3 separate regions of the Homo sapiens genome follow, and all the other regions are reported to be linked to region 1. Evidence: microRNA targets listed by miRTarBase, many of them from high-throughput screens and not tested one by one. Region 1 holds a microRNA gene; each other region holds the end of a gene's coding sequence.
The links. The annotated mature microRNA hsa-miR-4292 reads CCCCUGGGCCGGCCUUGG and lies in region 1 at 2,554-2,571, shown strand. An mRNA with a match to its seed (bases 2 to 7 or 8) in the 3' UTR can be bound and repressed. Matches are read on the target gene's strand: a 7mer-m8 pairs with bases 2 to 8, a 7mer-A1 pairs with bases 2 to 7 and ends in A, and an 8mer does both.

Region 1 (5,177 bases):
GCCCAAGGCCCAGGGGTTCCACCTCGTAATTTTTGTTTGTTTTTAAATAAGGAAAATGCAAAAAGCGAGGCGACGGCTTAAAGATGGAGAACGACCCCCAGGAGGTGAGTGCCAGGTACACAGTGGGTAGCAGTGGCTCAGGGCCCCGGGGTGCGTGAGCCGGTGCCCAGCGCTTCACACGCTTTTGACCCCAACCACCCCAGTTATGCTGTGGCCACGGGGGCCGCTGGCCTTCCCAACTGCTCTGAAAACCCCACACTGCCATGGCTGTATCTGGGGGTGGCCGGCTCACCTGCACTCGACAGACATCACGTTGGACTGACCCCTATTTGCATTTGAGTGACCTGAGAGGTATTTAAGTGAACTCGCCAAACTTTTATCCCAGTCTCGGTGGGCTCGGCCCTTCAAAGCACAGGACACATCTCGCAGCGCCATGGGCGTGAGTTTCGCTCACCGGAGCCACCTGGGGCCAACCCAACCTGAGCCCGACACACCCAGGGCCTCGCACTCTCCGTGCGGTGCCTCCCACTCCCTTTAGAGCATGGGGTGGAGTGACTCTGCCCACAGCACTGCAGCTAACCCTGTTTGTGGGCACTGGAACCTTCCGGAACGCACATCTAGCTGAGGGCAGCTGGTAGTCCAGCACCCACTTCTATTTTCGAGTGGTGGTTTGGTTATCCGTGAGGCCTGGGGCGGACACTGCTGTGATCAGTGGGAGGTCCTGGGTAGGAGGCTTGTTCAGGGAGCCATCAGCGAGGCTGGTGTTGACCGTCAGACCCTTTGGGGCAAACCTATGTTTAGCTATCCCATCTCTTCAGCATATCGTTTCCAAATGGAAATGGCTGTTATCTTTTCAGATTAGAAGACTATCCAGCCTTTTCTAAAACTGTGGGCCACACGGGTGGGGCCCAGCCTGGGCCAGTCTCACACCTGTTCCCTCCTGTCCCCAGGCGGAGTCTGAAATGGCCCTGGATGCTGAGTTCCTGGACGTGTACAAGAACTGCAACGGGGTGGTCATGATGTTCGACATTACCAAGCAGTGGTAAGAGGGAGCTGGCGGGGGCAGCTGCCTGTGACTCTCACCCCCCTAGCCCCTTGGGCGCCCTCTTTGTGCAGCAGATAATGGTTAGAGCAGCATCGTTCTGCAGGACCGAGGGACTCTTGCTGGGCAGCTGTGGCAGCTCAGCCACAAGGGGCACTGGCCTGGATGTCGGGCTGGGCAACGACTATGCCTGTGCCTATGGGGCGGGATGGCGTGGGCCGGCTGCAAAAGGCATCTGGGGCAAGGCACGCACCTTCCATAGCCCCACTGTTCTTCCTGAAAACCCATCTGAGACTTGGCGGAAGCAAGTGGCTGCTTGTGCTGGGGGCTCCCCGCGACCTCCGTCTTCATGACCTAGGAGGACCCACAGCCAAGATTCATTCTAGCAAGAAGATGACAGCGAAATCAGCTAAGGGCAGTGGCACACAGGACGATCTCTGGGGGACCAGGCGCAAGCCCCCAGAGTCCACTGTGGAGTCGCATGGGATCCACTCAGCTCCTCAGGAGTGCAGTGTCCCCCAGGACGCACCGGAGCCCCAGCGGGGGGGTGCTGCGGACGCACACTTGGCACAAGGCTCCTAGAAGAACGAGGGCCGCGTGAAGACCAGTGTCCTGGTGCAGGGCCCCTCCTAGCCACAGCCAGTGCCCGGAGCACCAGGAGCAGCATGCCCGACACGTCCAGGCATCTGCTCTTCCCAGCAGTGGGTCTGGCCTGGGGGCCTAGTCAGCAGCTTCTCTTACTTGGGAAGACCCCCACACCAGGGTTAAGCGTACCGCCTGTCACGGGGCCGCACACTCAGCACGCATCAGCAGCCCAGGCCTGAGGGCGGCTTGAAGCACCTGACCAGCCATGCTCTGGGCCTCTGCCAACCTTTGCCAATGCTGGGAACCATGCCTGCCCTCCCAGCCTTCAGCACCACCACCAAGGACTGACCGCAGGCACCCTCAGGAGAGCCCTCGGTGGGGGTGTGGCACACGGATGGCAGGAGAACCACACACGGGGCTGGCGGCCCCACCCCAGGGCACGAGTTCAGCTCGGGCGCACACGCTGGCCTCACCTGGGCGAGCAGTGGTGCTCCTCTCCCTCCGGCCTCTCCTGTCTAGGCAGCAGGCCAGCCTGGTGGGTGGGAAGTGGCTTTTCCCAAGCGAAGTTGAGTGTGGACACAGTGTGGCCTCCACGGCACCTCCCACTGCTGCCACAGGAACGGCCTGGAGGGAGCTGCAGCCGCCTGGGCTGCCGTGCGAGGAGTGGGCGGGAGTGACAGCGAGACTTGAGCCAGCCTGAGAAGACGCGGCAAAGGCGCTTACCTGTGGGCCCGGAGACCCTGTTGGCAGCACCAGCCTGGGCAGGCGATGCCTATGGTAGCAATGCTCTGTCTGGAGCCCCTGGTGCCCAGCAGGAAGGATGGAAAACACTGGCTCAGACAGCGGCTTCAAGCACCACGCAGGCCCTTCACAGCCACGAGAGGCAGGAGACACCAGAAGGCCACCTGCTTAGGAGGCCAGAGGTGCCCCTGGGCCGGCCTTGGTGAGGGGCCCGTTTAAATGACTGCGTGTAAATGAAAGAAAATGAAGTTAGAAACAGGATGTTGCATTTTTTACTCCCTTATGTTGGCTTTCAGTCGTGGGGAAGTTTTGTCACTTGAAGCGCTGGTTATTTCTTCACAAGCCATTTGGAAAACCACGCAGCTGGGAAACTGGCAGTTCCACGCCAGGCAGACTCTGGAGACTTGCCGTCCGTGCCAGGAGATGTCTGCTTAAGACAAGGCTCTCCAAACAGCCCGCTTCACCGGCAGCCGCAGAGGCACCCCAGGGTGTCCTCGGCTGCCCCGGTGGGCAGGGAGCCTGGAGGACCAGCCACAGGGTCGACACCAAGGGGCACAGAGGACAGTGCGGAATGAGGGTGGACACAGATGAAGCCAGAGGTGGTTTTGTAGGGATGCGGACATGGGGTGCTCTGAGGGAAGGCAGGGACAGGCAGGGGCGTTCCAGTGTGGGGTGCGGTCAAGTACCTGCCGTCAGGGAGAGGGACGGGCGGGGGCTGCAGGCTGAGGGGTGCGAAGGCCCTCGAGGCACTTCCCTCTAGCTCTGCATGCACGAGGCATGCTTCTGCTGGGTTGGATGTTGGAAATGAGAAGCAGCCACCATCCTCGGGCCTGGGCGCACAGCACCTTTCCAGGGAGGGACAGGGCGTCGCAGGGCTGAAACTAAGCCAGGTCCTCACCTGTTCTCCGAGGACCTTCAATTACATTCTCCGGGAGCTTCCAAAAGTGCCCACCCACGTGCCAGTGTGCGTGCTGGGAAACTACCGGGACATGGGCGAGCACCGAGTCATCCTGCCGGACGACGTGCGTGACTTCATCGACAACCTGGACAGGTGGGTGCGGTGGCCCTGCTCCCGAGGGACCCTGCCCGGTGCTCCGGTGTGCGGGGGAGGGTGCTGAGGCAGAGGCCCAGGGAGGGGTTAACGTTAGCATGGGGCCCGGCGGATGTGGGTCTCGCCGCTGAGTGGGGCTCACTGAAGCCTGGGTCTCCCCGATGGCAGGGCCGGGAACTGTGTGCTGGGGAACTGTGTGCCAGGGTGAAGTGCTGGCACTGTGGGGTCACCTGCAGAAGGGCACTCGGCTTAGCTGCTTAGCAGGGCTCAGCAGGGTCCTGTGGCCTCAGGAGCCTGCAGGAGGAGGGAGGGCAGTGCGGACCCACAGCTGTGGGCCCAGGGGTGATCCTTGGCACCAGGGCAAGGGTCTTTCTCTTGCATCTTTTTTCCTTTCTGAAAGCAGACCTCCAGGTTCCTCCTACTTCCGCTATGCTGAGTCTTCCATGAAGAACAGCTTCGGCCTAAAGTACCTTCATAAGTTCTTCAATATCCCATTTTTGCAGCTTCAGGTAAGCACTCACCACGTGGGGTGGAGTGGCTGCTGGTCTCTCACCTCCTTCCAGGTGTCTCCTGTGTAGCAACGGGTCTCCCTCCTAACCCCTGAGAAAGCTGTGGACCTGCTCGGAGATTGGCTGCTGGCAAGGGCCCAGCGTTCTACTGCACCTGCCTGCTCTGGGTGGCAGAGGGTACAGGGTCCTGAGGGCTAGACCCAGTCCCAGGAGCCCCTCCACCTCTGCGGGGACCCCTTGCTCAGTTTCCCCCAGTGTTTTTGGTTGTTTTTGTTTGTTGAGATAAGGTCTTGCTGTGTGGCCCAGGCTGGAGTGCAGTGGCGCAATCATGGCTCACTGCGGCCTCAAACTCCGGGGCTCAGGCAATCCTCCCACCTGTCTCCCAAAGTGCTGGGATGCCAGGCGTGAGTCACCGAGGTACTCGCTGTTCACATCTCACATTTCCCTGGTGCTTGTGTCAAAACCAAGGAACCAACTTTGGCCTACGGACTAAACTCACTTTCCTTTGTAGAAACAAGGGCCAGGCCAGCTGTGGCTGCAAAGTAGCCCAGCAAATGATGAGGCTTGAACCTCCTCGCCCTGGGCTGCCCTGATTGGGTCTGGGGGACCTGAACCTCCTCGCCCTGGGCTGCCCTGACTGGGTCTGGGGGACCTGAACCTCCTCGCCCTGGGCTGCCCCAGCTGGGTCTGGGGACCTGAACCTCCTCGCCCTGGGCTGCCCCGCCTGGGTCTGGGGACCTGAACCTCCTCGCCCTGGGCTGCCCCGCCTGGGTCTGGGGACCTGAACCTCCTCGCCCTGGGCTGCCCCACCTGGGTCTGGGGACCTGAACCTCCTCGCCCTGGGCTGCCCCAGCTGGGTCTGGGGGACCTGAACCTCCTCGCCCTGGGCTGCCCCAGCTGGGTCTGGGGGACCTGAACCTCCTCGCCCTGGGCTGCCCCAGCTGGATCTGGGGGACCTGAACCTCCTCGCCCTGGGCTGCCCCGCCTGGGTCTGGGGGACCTGAACCTCCTTGCCTGGGCTGCCCCGCCTGGGTCTGGGGGACCTGAACCTCCTCGCCCTGGGCTGCCCCAGCTGGGTCTGGGGGACCTGTACCTCCTCGCCCTGGGCTGCCCCGCCTGGGTCTGGGGGACCTGAACCTCCTCGCCCTGGGCTGCCCCGACTGGGTCTGGGGGACCTGAATCTCCTCACCCTGGGCTGCCCCAGCTGGGTCTGGGGACCTGAACCTCCTCGCCCTGGGCTGCCCCAGCT
Region 2 (5,000 bases), not on the chromosome of region 1:
AGAATACAGAAGAGAACAGTAAGCAAGAGCTAGCAACCTATTTATGCAGGAATGGAACTGATGGAAAAGTGAGCAGGGAGGGGGATCCTAAAACCACATGCCTGCAGAGGGGAGGCCACAGAGTGGTCAGCAGAGATGCCCTGTGGCCTCCAGGAGAGGCTTGGGGATTGGAATAGGAGGGATGGGGTGAGACATGGGGCTGAAGACCAGGGCATTTATTGGCTCTGAGGTCCCCTGTCCTTCCCATGCAGCCAGATGACCACTGTGCTCCTACTCCATGGAGAAATCAGAGCAGCTCCAACTCAGGGACACCAGGCACAGCAAAGGTTGAAGCAACTTAATGAAAGTCTAAATACTCACGGGTGATGAGGCTGCCTGCTCAGCGGTCAGGACTCGGGCACACTGAGTATAGACCAGGGTCTCTGGATATGGTCCTACAGTTGTGCATTGCACAGAGGCACTTGGCTAAAGAGGGCAATTAGGAGTTAAAATCTAGCCTTTTCATTGTTCCTCGAGCATTGTCCAAGCTCAGAGCTGGGTATGTCTGGAGGAAGGGGCAAAAGGTGTCCTTTGCCAGTCAAGCCAAGTGCTCATGGGGACTTCTGCCCAGATGGGACACCATTTTTGAAACCACATGAGTACTCAGCATAGGCTAAAAGCCCTGTGTATGCCCGTTTCCCAGGAAGGAGAGTAGTGGGAATATCTCTCAAGAAACAGAATGAGCCCCAGAGAAAACACGTGCAAATACTGACAGGCAGTGTTCTCCAATGATGAGTCCAGGTGCCCACCTGGTGACCCTAGTGGAAAAGCTCACCAGTTGGCACACACAACTTCCAATCAGCTTTTGGATGCCTCACTCTTAAAACATGAACAGATCCATAGGATCACCATATATTTGAGAAAAATTCACAACGTGAAAGATAGAGACTGAGACCACCAAAATAAAGAGAACTCAGAGAAAATGAGGGCAACACAGGGAGCAGAAAAGACTTCCCCTCAGACCACAATCATTAACGTCCACAGAGAGACAAAATCTGCATCCACGCATCAAGAGCAGGACACTGTAAAACAAAGACAGGATAATAACCAAAGGTTTTATTAACTTGGAAAATAAAAATTCAATAAAACATTCAGATTGGGAAGATAAAAATGAATAATTCTTCCTGAAAGCAGATCAGAAACATAGACGAAAAATAGAAAAGATAAAAAATATTAGAGCATCAGCCTGGGTGTAGGGGAGGGTCCAACATTGAAATAATAGGTGGTCCAGAAAGAAAGAATGTAAATAATCACAAGAAAATTTAAGAAATTTCCCATGAAGGCCCAGCACAAGGTTTAACACCCGGGATACAACACCATCATGACAGTTCAGAACACCAAGAATAAAGAGATCTTAAATGTTTCCAGGAAGGGTGGATAAAAAAACCTAAGTCACATATAAAGGTACGGGAATCAGAATGGCATCAGAAATCTCAACCAGCACGCTTGGGAGGGGCTAGGGGAGGGTATTATTTTCCACCTGTCATTCTATGCTCAGCCACATTTCTGTTAAGGGCAGAATACAGACATCTTAAGTCATGCAAAAATCTCAAAATATTTACAACCATATTTACTTCCCATGTTCTCTTCCTCAGGAAGTTATTAAAGAATGTGCCACACCAAAAAAAAAAAAAAAGTAAAGAGAGAGAATAGCAAATTAATGGGGACATTTGGAGGAGAAAGGACATGTAACCATAACACACTGCTGGGCTTGGGAGTCAACAATCCTTAAGTGCTCCAGGTAATGTCAACACCTAATAGAAATGTACTAAATGATGTGATCTAGCTATACTGGAAAACCAAAGCACGGTATGGTAAGAGTGAAATCCTCCTCTACTGTGACAGCAAGCCAGTAGATGTTTCTAAATTAAAAAATAAAGTGTAAGCACGTTATGTAGAAATGCAAACATAAGAGAGTTGAAAGTGGTTACTTCTAAGCAGCGAGACTTAGGGGACTGCTAGTTCTTGTTAAAAGCCTTATTGTATTTCTTTTAATTTAAAAAAAATTTACAAGCAATGGGGTGGTTTGTCCTGCAGACTTCCACATCCATTTTCTATATCCAGCTTCTTCCATAGAAGCCTATACTCAAATGAGATTTTTTTTTCCTTTGCAAAATATCAGTTGACTGCCAACCTGAACCAAATGACTTTCAGGCATCTTGCCAGTAGATGTTTTAAACAATATTACAAGTTGTAATAGGTGAGAGAAGTATCTTGCAGAGGTTTTTCTGAACAAGGTCTAGACCCATAAAATGAAATGATTCACATTTGGGTTGGCTCTTCCCAGGCTCTTCGAGCATCTAATTTAGGCAAGGACTGCATGGTGCCCAGAGTTATAAACTATCACATAATCTTTATTATCTGTACCTTTGAGCTTTCATTGATGCCAGGGAGCTCATTAATTAGCTCATTTTCCATGGGGCTCTTGGCCTTCCAGATGGAATCACTCCAAGCTCCCAGCAGCTTTCTGGTTGGAAGGCTGAAATTCTTTCAGGAGGGGAGACAGACTATAATCAGACTGGTTTAGAGGCCAGATTTTGGCTGTCATCGACTCAGATGTGCTATGTAAATTCTTCTGGCCATGCTGGAATTCTGTAAACTTGAAACCCACTGCTTGAAATGAGCAAGTCCTTGGCTAGCAAAGAAAGAAACGTGATTCCTGGAGTAAGAGCGACGCTGGTATGTCAAATGACAAGCTGTTGCAGCTGTCAAGGGTATTTCAGAAGGAATTGGGGATGAGCTTGAAGGTGAGTAAGAATTCCTCATGGGAAAAATACAAGAACAAAACAAATGTCGATAGTTGGTCTAAACTTTTTGGTTTTGCTTGAATGTGGACATTTTAATCTAGTCATTTTATCTTTTTCTCAGGACATTGGTGTGCCCAGTGGAAGTTTCCTACAAGGGGTGACAGCTCTGGACAGGGCATCAGGTGCCTGTGTGCTCACTGCAAGTCTGCCCCTGGTCGGCTATATGATCTTGGTCAAGCTGCTCTGTCTCTCTGGGTCCAGCTAGACAAGATGCTCACTGAGTCCCCTCCTGACTCATTTGTGATTTTATAAGGGTTGCCTGGTACATGCTTTCTGAAGGGGAGAGCAAGGGGAGGAGGAACCAATGCAGAGACTCACCACGGACCTGAGTCTTGGCAGGGAGGAGAGAGCAGAGGGAGCCTGGGGCTGAGGAAGACTGGGGGCAGGGGTGCTAGAGATGCCTCTCTTCTTTCACAAACCTCCTGTGCTGGCCTGCTCCCGGAGTGCTGTCCAGAAAGCCTCTTCAAGAAACCCATTACAAGTGACCACAAAGAATGCCCGTTCCAAGACATGCATTCTGAGGGAGGTGTGCACCAAAGCTTTAGTGGGCAGGAAGCTACCCCACCACCCAGCTCCAGCACTGCTGGGAGCTGATTCCAGCCCAGCCACTCCTCATGGCTTTTATATGGCCCTGCTGGGCCCTGGCGATCTGGTTTGAAAATCATGGTTCTATCTCAATCCAATCAATGGAAAACTGAATTTCAAGTGTTATCTCCCCTCAAACAAAAAACAAAACAAAAAAACAACAAAAAAAACAGGGTGAAAAAGAGCACACAGTGGCTCTCAACACAGCTTTCACCTTCCTCCCTGGATTCTGCCATTCCTGGATGTGCTTACACAGAGCTGGCTGCTCGGATTTCCCCTAGTGAATGCAACCAGTTACCGGACTGCGACAGGTGCATGGACCCCAGCACCTTCTCTCAAACACCCACGCTTGGAGGAAAACGTGGCAGCTCTCTCCCCAGCTGGGGCTTGGCCTGGGGTGCCCACCCTCTTTCTCATTAAGCAGCCCTTCATCTGAGAGGTAAGAAACTCAAGTTCATCCAGCGTGTGAACCTGCAATGTGGGGTGTGCTAAGATCCAGGCGGGCTAATGATCACTAACAATGCTCCCTATCCAACCCAGCAAGGCACACAAGGACAAAACCCCACCTACGGATCCAGCTGCATGCCTGAGTTTTGAGTACACAGCCAAAGAAAAAAGCATGCTCAGGTTGTCCAGAAAAAAAAGGAAACCTGAAAAAAAAAAAAAAACCACAATAGCGAGAAAGGGGGTCTAAGTTTCCTCGGAGGTCCTCAACTGTCTGTAGAAGTGCCCCACCCAGAACCCAAAATAAAATGAAGTAACCCCGCCCCTGGTCAGGGTCCTGTCTTTTTTATTATCCAGACACACGTATCAGAGCCTGCTAACATCCAGTTGTGGGAAGAGCAGCAAGCAGTACACCAGGAGCCACAGGAAGAGAATAAAATACATCATATCCGGCTGCTGGACAAGCTGTGTCAGGGAGTCACTCTGCGGGCTGTGGCTCCCCAGTGACATGGCTTCTCCTGAGCTGTTGGCCTTCCTACAGAAGAAACACAGAGGAAACGCAGTTACCAAGCAGGTTCCCAGGAAAGTGGACCCCACCCAGTGCTACCCGTCTCTCCCCGGCCCCCACTCCCCGCCTGAAGACCCGAAGGCTCCCCAGCACCATGTCCAGGTAGGCCCCACACTGTGTGTACTGGCCCAAGGCAGTGCGTCGGGCCATCCAGGCAGCCCCTCGAGCTTTTGCACGTACTCCGTTCATCTCCATAACATCAGGTGAGAGGAGGTGGCAGCCCCATTCTGCAGATGGACACACTGAGGCTTTCGGGGTGGAGTGACTTGCCCAAGGCCATGCAATTAACTTGGCGACAGAGAGGGCGCCTAGGCCAGGTCTCCTGGGACACCTTTCTTGATGCCACAGTGCTCTCAGAGAGTGACACGGAGTTAGATACTGATCGCTTGCTGCTGTTTGTTAGTAACGCAGGGGACCCCATAGGTCATCTAAGGGATGAAGTGTCCCTAATAGCAGATCATTTTAAATCATCTATCAGAAAGAAACAAAGACCTCTCCCATTCCCCACAGTTTTGTTTTGGCTTTGGAATATTACCTTTAAAATAATTACTAGATTT
Region 3 (5,000 bases), not on the chromosome of region 1:
GTGGGCCAAATTCTCACTGCTGTTCCTGTAATTCTGAACCTTTTCAAGTATACAATGGAGGTATAAGAATCTGGCCAGATGTGAAACATCACCTATAAGCTAAAGGACAGACCCTTAAAATTCATCACCAGTACAATTGTGAGGTGGAAATGAGGAATACAAAAAATTGAGGTATTTTATATGATAAACTGTCTTGTGGTGTGACTGGTGTACAAATTGGTCTTTTCTTTCCAACTCACATTAACAGAATCTACCTATGAATATGAGTAAAACCTATGAAAAATGAACACGGATATGTCCTTGGGAGGAAGGTCACTGTTAAGGAGTCAATGATACATTTTTGGTCCCTGAGAAGGCAAAACACCAAGACTCCATCCAATCCCGCCTGATGGACGAACAACGCCCTCGGTGTCAGACACCATGAAAAGAACAACTTCAGAACACGGAAGCTAATCCATGCTGTCGGGAACAGACCTTACACTGAAATGTTCTCTTTCTAGTTTCCTGCTTGGTGGCAGGAAGCCTAAGTCAGCATCGAGCAGGTGTCAGGTCGAAGCGGCACAACGGGAGGGGCTCTGGGAACCACCGGAGTACTCTCTCCCCTCTTCTGGGTTAGCTGAGCAGCTTGAAGAAGAGGAATCCCCCGACCAGACAGAAGGGCAGCAGCCTGTGCCCATCACACCTGTTTCCACGGACCAGGTGTCCGTGCACACCTGGGAGACACTGCATCTCCAAAGTCTAGAACTGGCCCCTAGAAGTTGAGCACAACATTTACAAAGAGCTGAGTCATCTAGGAAGAAGGAAAATAAGACGACTGCACAAGTGAACAGTGCTCACTTCTACCAGAAAACAGATGTGAAATCCAAAGAAGAACAAACACCAACATATTACCGCTGGGATGAACTTCTGGAAAGACAACTGGGTGTAGTAAATTGGCTTGAAGAGCAGGAATTGAAAGAATATTCCTTATTGCTGAACAAAGAGCTGCGAAGTATATTCACTAACATTCTGATAGGAAAAGATCTCAATGAGAGCTGAGCAAGGCCACCAGAATACCAAATTCCTCCCCAAAGTCCCCAGCATGGGCAGGGCCTCACTCCATGTGGCACTGGAAGGACTTCCCTCCCCAGCACCTTCTCCACAGAGATGGCATGGTCCTGCCAGCCGGGAAGATGCTCCAGGGGGGCTTTGTGGTGCTGGGTTAGGGTTAGAATCCTTAATTGGCCCTACCTTTGATCAATGAGCAGAACAGGAAGCAATCCTTTCAAATGCAAATATTCAGAGGAGAAAACAAGGCATTGCCCAAGAAGAGGAGAGAAATAGCCTATTTAAGTATCTATCAAGAGAAATCTGCATATTGTGATCAAAACCTTTGATTTTAGAGGATGCTTGAAAACAAGTATACAGTAAGCATCTTTTTTTTCAAAGAATAGTATGATAATGAAAATATTTCAAGTACATGTACTTTTGGAAAGACCACTAAGAGATCTATCCATGTTCTAGGCCCTCCCCCAAAGTTCTCACTTTGGGGCTTTTTCATTTTCAAATGAATGATGAAAACATAATTTTTTAAAATAAATACTATCAAATCAGAAGTTATATGCTCTATATTAAATTTGAAAATTAGACTGTTCAACCACTGGTCATGTCATTTACTTTGAGGCTGGTGTCACGTGCTTGAAAAACAATGGATGATATGAACTTTGTTTCACTGGAAGAAAAGCTATGTATCCTACTGAAGTATCTGCTGAACAGAGGTAAACCTGAAAGATTCTAACTGTCCCAGGACCAGTCACCTTCAAGGGTAGAAGAGCTATTAATACTTTTGAGATTTTGTTTTACTCTAAGAATATTATAGAGAAGATCATCGGGTATCACCTCTCAGTATCAATGGTATAATTGTGGATTAAAATATACTAAGGTACACCAAGAGCTGCCTTTAAACTAAATTTCCCACAAAAGCTGTAGCAACACAAACATGATCATTTTCATGTGACACATGAACTTTCTCATTACACTTGTTAGCCACATGTATTCTTTGAATATCTCACACCCCTTACCTAGGAAACTATTTTTATGCCCAAAAGTATATTGATACTGCTACATTACGTTTTCAGAAAGTTCAGTTCAGTAAGTTAAGGCCTGCATTTCTAAAAGCACTGATGATAAAACACAAAACCTGCAAGAGCCAATAAAAAGAGTAATGGACTTTGAGCATTTGTTAACCATCCATTGAGAGGATTTAAGATTTTTAAAAAATAATGTTGTTGCTGCTCTCAGTTCACAAATCACTGACAACCCATGATCATCATGTACACGTTTACTCCATAAAGGTATTTTTCTCTCTATATTAAACTAGTCTCATTTTATTTAGCCTCTTTACTCAACACTTTAGGAAGCTATTCCTTGAGACTTTAGAAATGTTCTTTTTGCCTACAAAAACACATTTTTTTTCTTACTGAGGAACTTTAATTGGGTACTATTCAATTTTATGTTCTACTTCACCTAATCTACTTTACCCAACCCCATCTTTCAACTTGGCGTAGTTCCCTGCTGAGATAAAACACTGGCCATGAAGTACATGATACCGTGGTGAAATATGTGCATCACTTCATGCTATGCTCCCATTTGGAACACATGGATGGGAACACTATAGACAGAGAATGACCTCTTTGATTCAAATACTGGCATAATTAATGGCTCTTTTGCATTTAAGACACATAATGAGAGGTTAGCTGAGGAACTCTAGGATGCTCTGCCATTGCAAACAACAAGGAGATGGCTACATTTATTGGCTTTTTGTTAGAAAATCTTTCAAAAACTGCATATTGCAATTTGTAGAAGCTAGCCTAACCTCAATTGTGTCCTTTAACTTGTTCCTGTATGACAGGGTACTCGATATATGAGCTATTGAACAGGTACTCTCCCACTTAGCCTTATTATCAAGTTACCTAATTTATTTCTTCTGAATGGCCATGAATGCTTGCTGATAAAGAATGTGGATATATTTGATACTGGATCCCAGGTAACACAGATCGAATACAAATAAAATAATACCTCATGCTACTTAAATCAACTGTCTTTAATTGGACAATAATCACATGTTAAAGGGGTCAATTTGCTCTAATGTGTCTTTAGTCTTGACTATCTTCCAGTGAATATACAGTCATGAACCACGTAACCATGTTTCTGTCAAAGACATACCACTTACATGACGGTGGTCCCATAACATTGTAATACCATAGTTTTACTGTACCTTTCCTATGTTTGTAAACACAAATACTCACCACTGTGTTACAATTGCCTGCGGTATTCAGTGCGGTCACATGCTGTACAGGTGTGTGGCCCAGGAGCAACAGGCTGTACCATCTGGCCTGGGTGGGTCATAGGTGTCCCATCTAGGTTTGTATAAGTGCACTCCATGATGTTCACACAATAAAGTCACCTTACAATGCATTTCTCAGAATGTTTCCCTATCATTAAGTGACATGTGACTGTATTATTTCTAACTGCCTTATACATTTGTAACTTGAATATTGAAATATTAAAGCATACTCGAAGTTGCATTATTCTAATCTAAGAACATATACACATTAAGAGTCAAATTAAGTTAATAATTCAAGTGATAAAGGCACTGAAATTGATTTGAGCTATTGAAAAGTCATCCTGCCAGTGGAACACTACCTCATGTTCATTAACTCTTCTCTCTCTCTCTATTTACTATTAAAATGTCTTGGGTGGGGGTGGGGGTCGAAGAGTCAACTTGTCAGAGGATTAAAAACAATTCAATGTATATGCCTCTTATTTGGATGACATACTTGAATGTTATACATGCTTAATGCAAACTAACACAACTACAGACACATTCACTGTACAGTGCCAGAGTTCAAGACAACAATCTCTCATTCCCAAAGTAATCTAAGTAAAAATATCTCTGCTATCATGTAACAACTAACCAGAAAGAGCCCATCTTTTTCTGTTTAAATAATGTTAAAATGTTTTAAAAGAAGAGAATATTCATGAAAGCTTCCAGGTTAATGGAAATGAAAATGAGATTCGTCTCATCAGAGAGAGATGGTGCCAGGCAACCGTTGGGGACGTTTGGGCTGCAGAGGGCTGGCTGGGCCTCTGCTCTGGTGCTGAGCCATGCTCCCCGCTATCCACCAGACCACCTGTTACTATCCAGTCAATTCTAACACCATGATCGAGGACCTCTTCTACTTCACATCCAATCACGGCCAGAAACCACCTCCAATGCCTATTCCTCGAACCATCCAAGCTCCTATTGCAATCTAGTCTGTTTTCATATTAGATTTGTTCATCTCCCCAAGGTTGAAATTGAACTCTTTGAACACCTGTATAAGGACAATCCCCACGGAGACGGTCGTGAATCCACAGGCCATCCCCAAGAAGTCCACCAGGCCCACGTTGCTCCACTCCCGGAAGAGGATGGCTGAGGCCAGCAGGACCAGCGTGGTAAACACGACGTAGTAGATGGCCCCGAACACCGAGGAGTCGAAGCACTCCAGCGCCTTGTTGATGTACCTGAACTGGACGATGATGCTGCAGCCGAGCACGGCCAGGAGTACCAGGCACAGGCAGAGGGCTCTCTGACTGGACGGGTTGTTATGCAAGATGTCTTGGGCCGCCAGCCCGATGCCCTTGGTGGAAGGCACGGTGAAACTGCCCAGCAAGGAGCAGATGCTGATGTAGACCATGATGTTGGTGGGCCCATGGGCCGGCGCGATCCAGAAGATGAGCAGCAGCAGCATGAGCAGCACGATGCACAGGTAGCCCACAAACACTGGAACACAGACAGCACACAGTCACCCGGAGCCACCGCCTAGCAGCCGCAACCCAGGAGGTGGACTGGGGCAGCACCCGGGCCCCCACCCGCCACCCGCCACCGGCCTCTACTGCGGCACAGCCCTGGGGAGCATGTGGGCTCTGGCTTGAATTTACCAGACCCACTGATTTCATTCCACAAAAGTATTCCCATC

Region 2: the mRNA of CLMN is a reported target of hsa-miR-4292. Seed matches in the 3' UTR shown: 7mer-A1 at 3,651-3,657.
Region 3: miRTarBase lists NIPA1 as a target of hsa-miR-4292. The part of its 3' UTR that is shown has no 7-base or 8-base seed match.

Annotation. Positions count from the first base shown.
Region 1 is chr9:136,828,443-136,833,619 of GRCh38, forward strand. It overlaps MIR4292 (microRNA 4292), which reads left to right and starts at 2,515; the gene lies at 2,515-2,581. RABL6 (RAB, member RAS oncogene family like 6) reads left to right here. Exons shown (of 15, transcript NM_024718.5): 4 at 52-104; 5 at 951-1,042; 6 at 3,279-3,419; 7 at 3,823-3,928.
Region 2 is chr14:95,187,323-95,192,322 of GRCh38, forward strand. CLMN (calmin) reads right to left here. Exons shown (of 13, transcript NM_024734.4): 13 at 1-4,410. The coding sequence ends at 4,242. Among named protein-coding and RNA genes, the nearest start is that of DICER1-AS1, 32 kb to the left of the region's middle.
Region 3 is chr15:22,823,532-22,828,531 of GRCh38, reverse strand. NIPA1 (NIPA magnesium transporter 1) reads right to left here. Exons shown (of 5, transcript NM_144599.5): 5 at 1-4,804. The coding sequence ends at 4,293. Among named protein-coding and RNA genes, the nearest start is that of NIPA2, 13 kb to the left of the region's middle. RefSeq lists an enhancer at 891-1,643.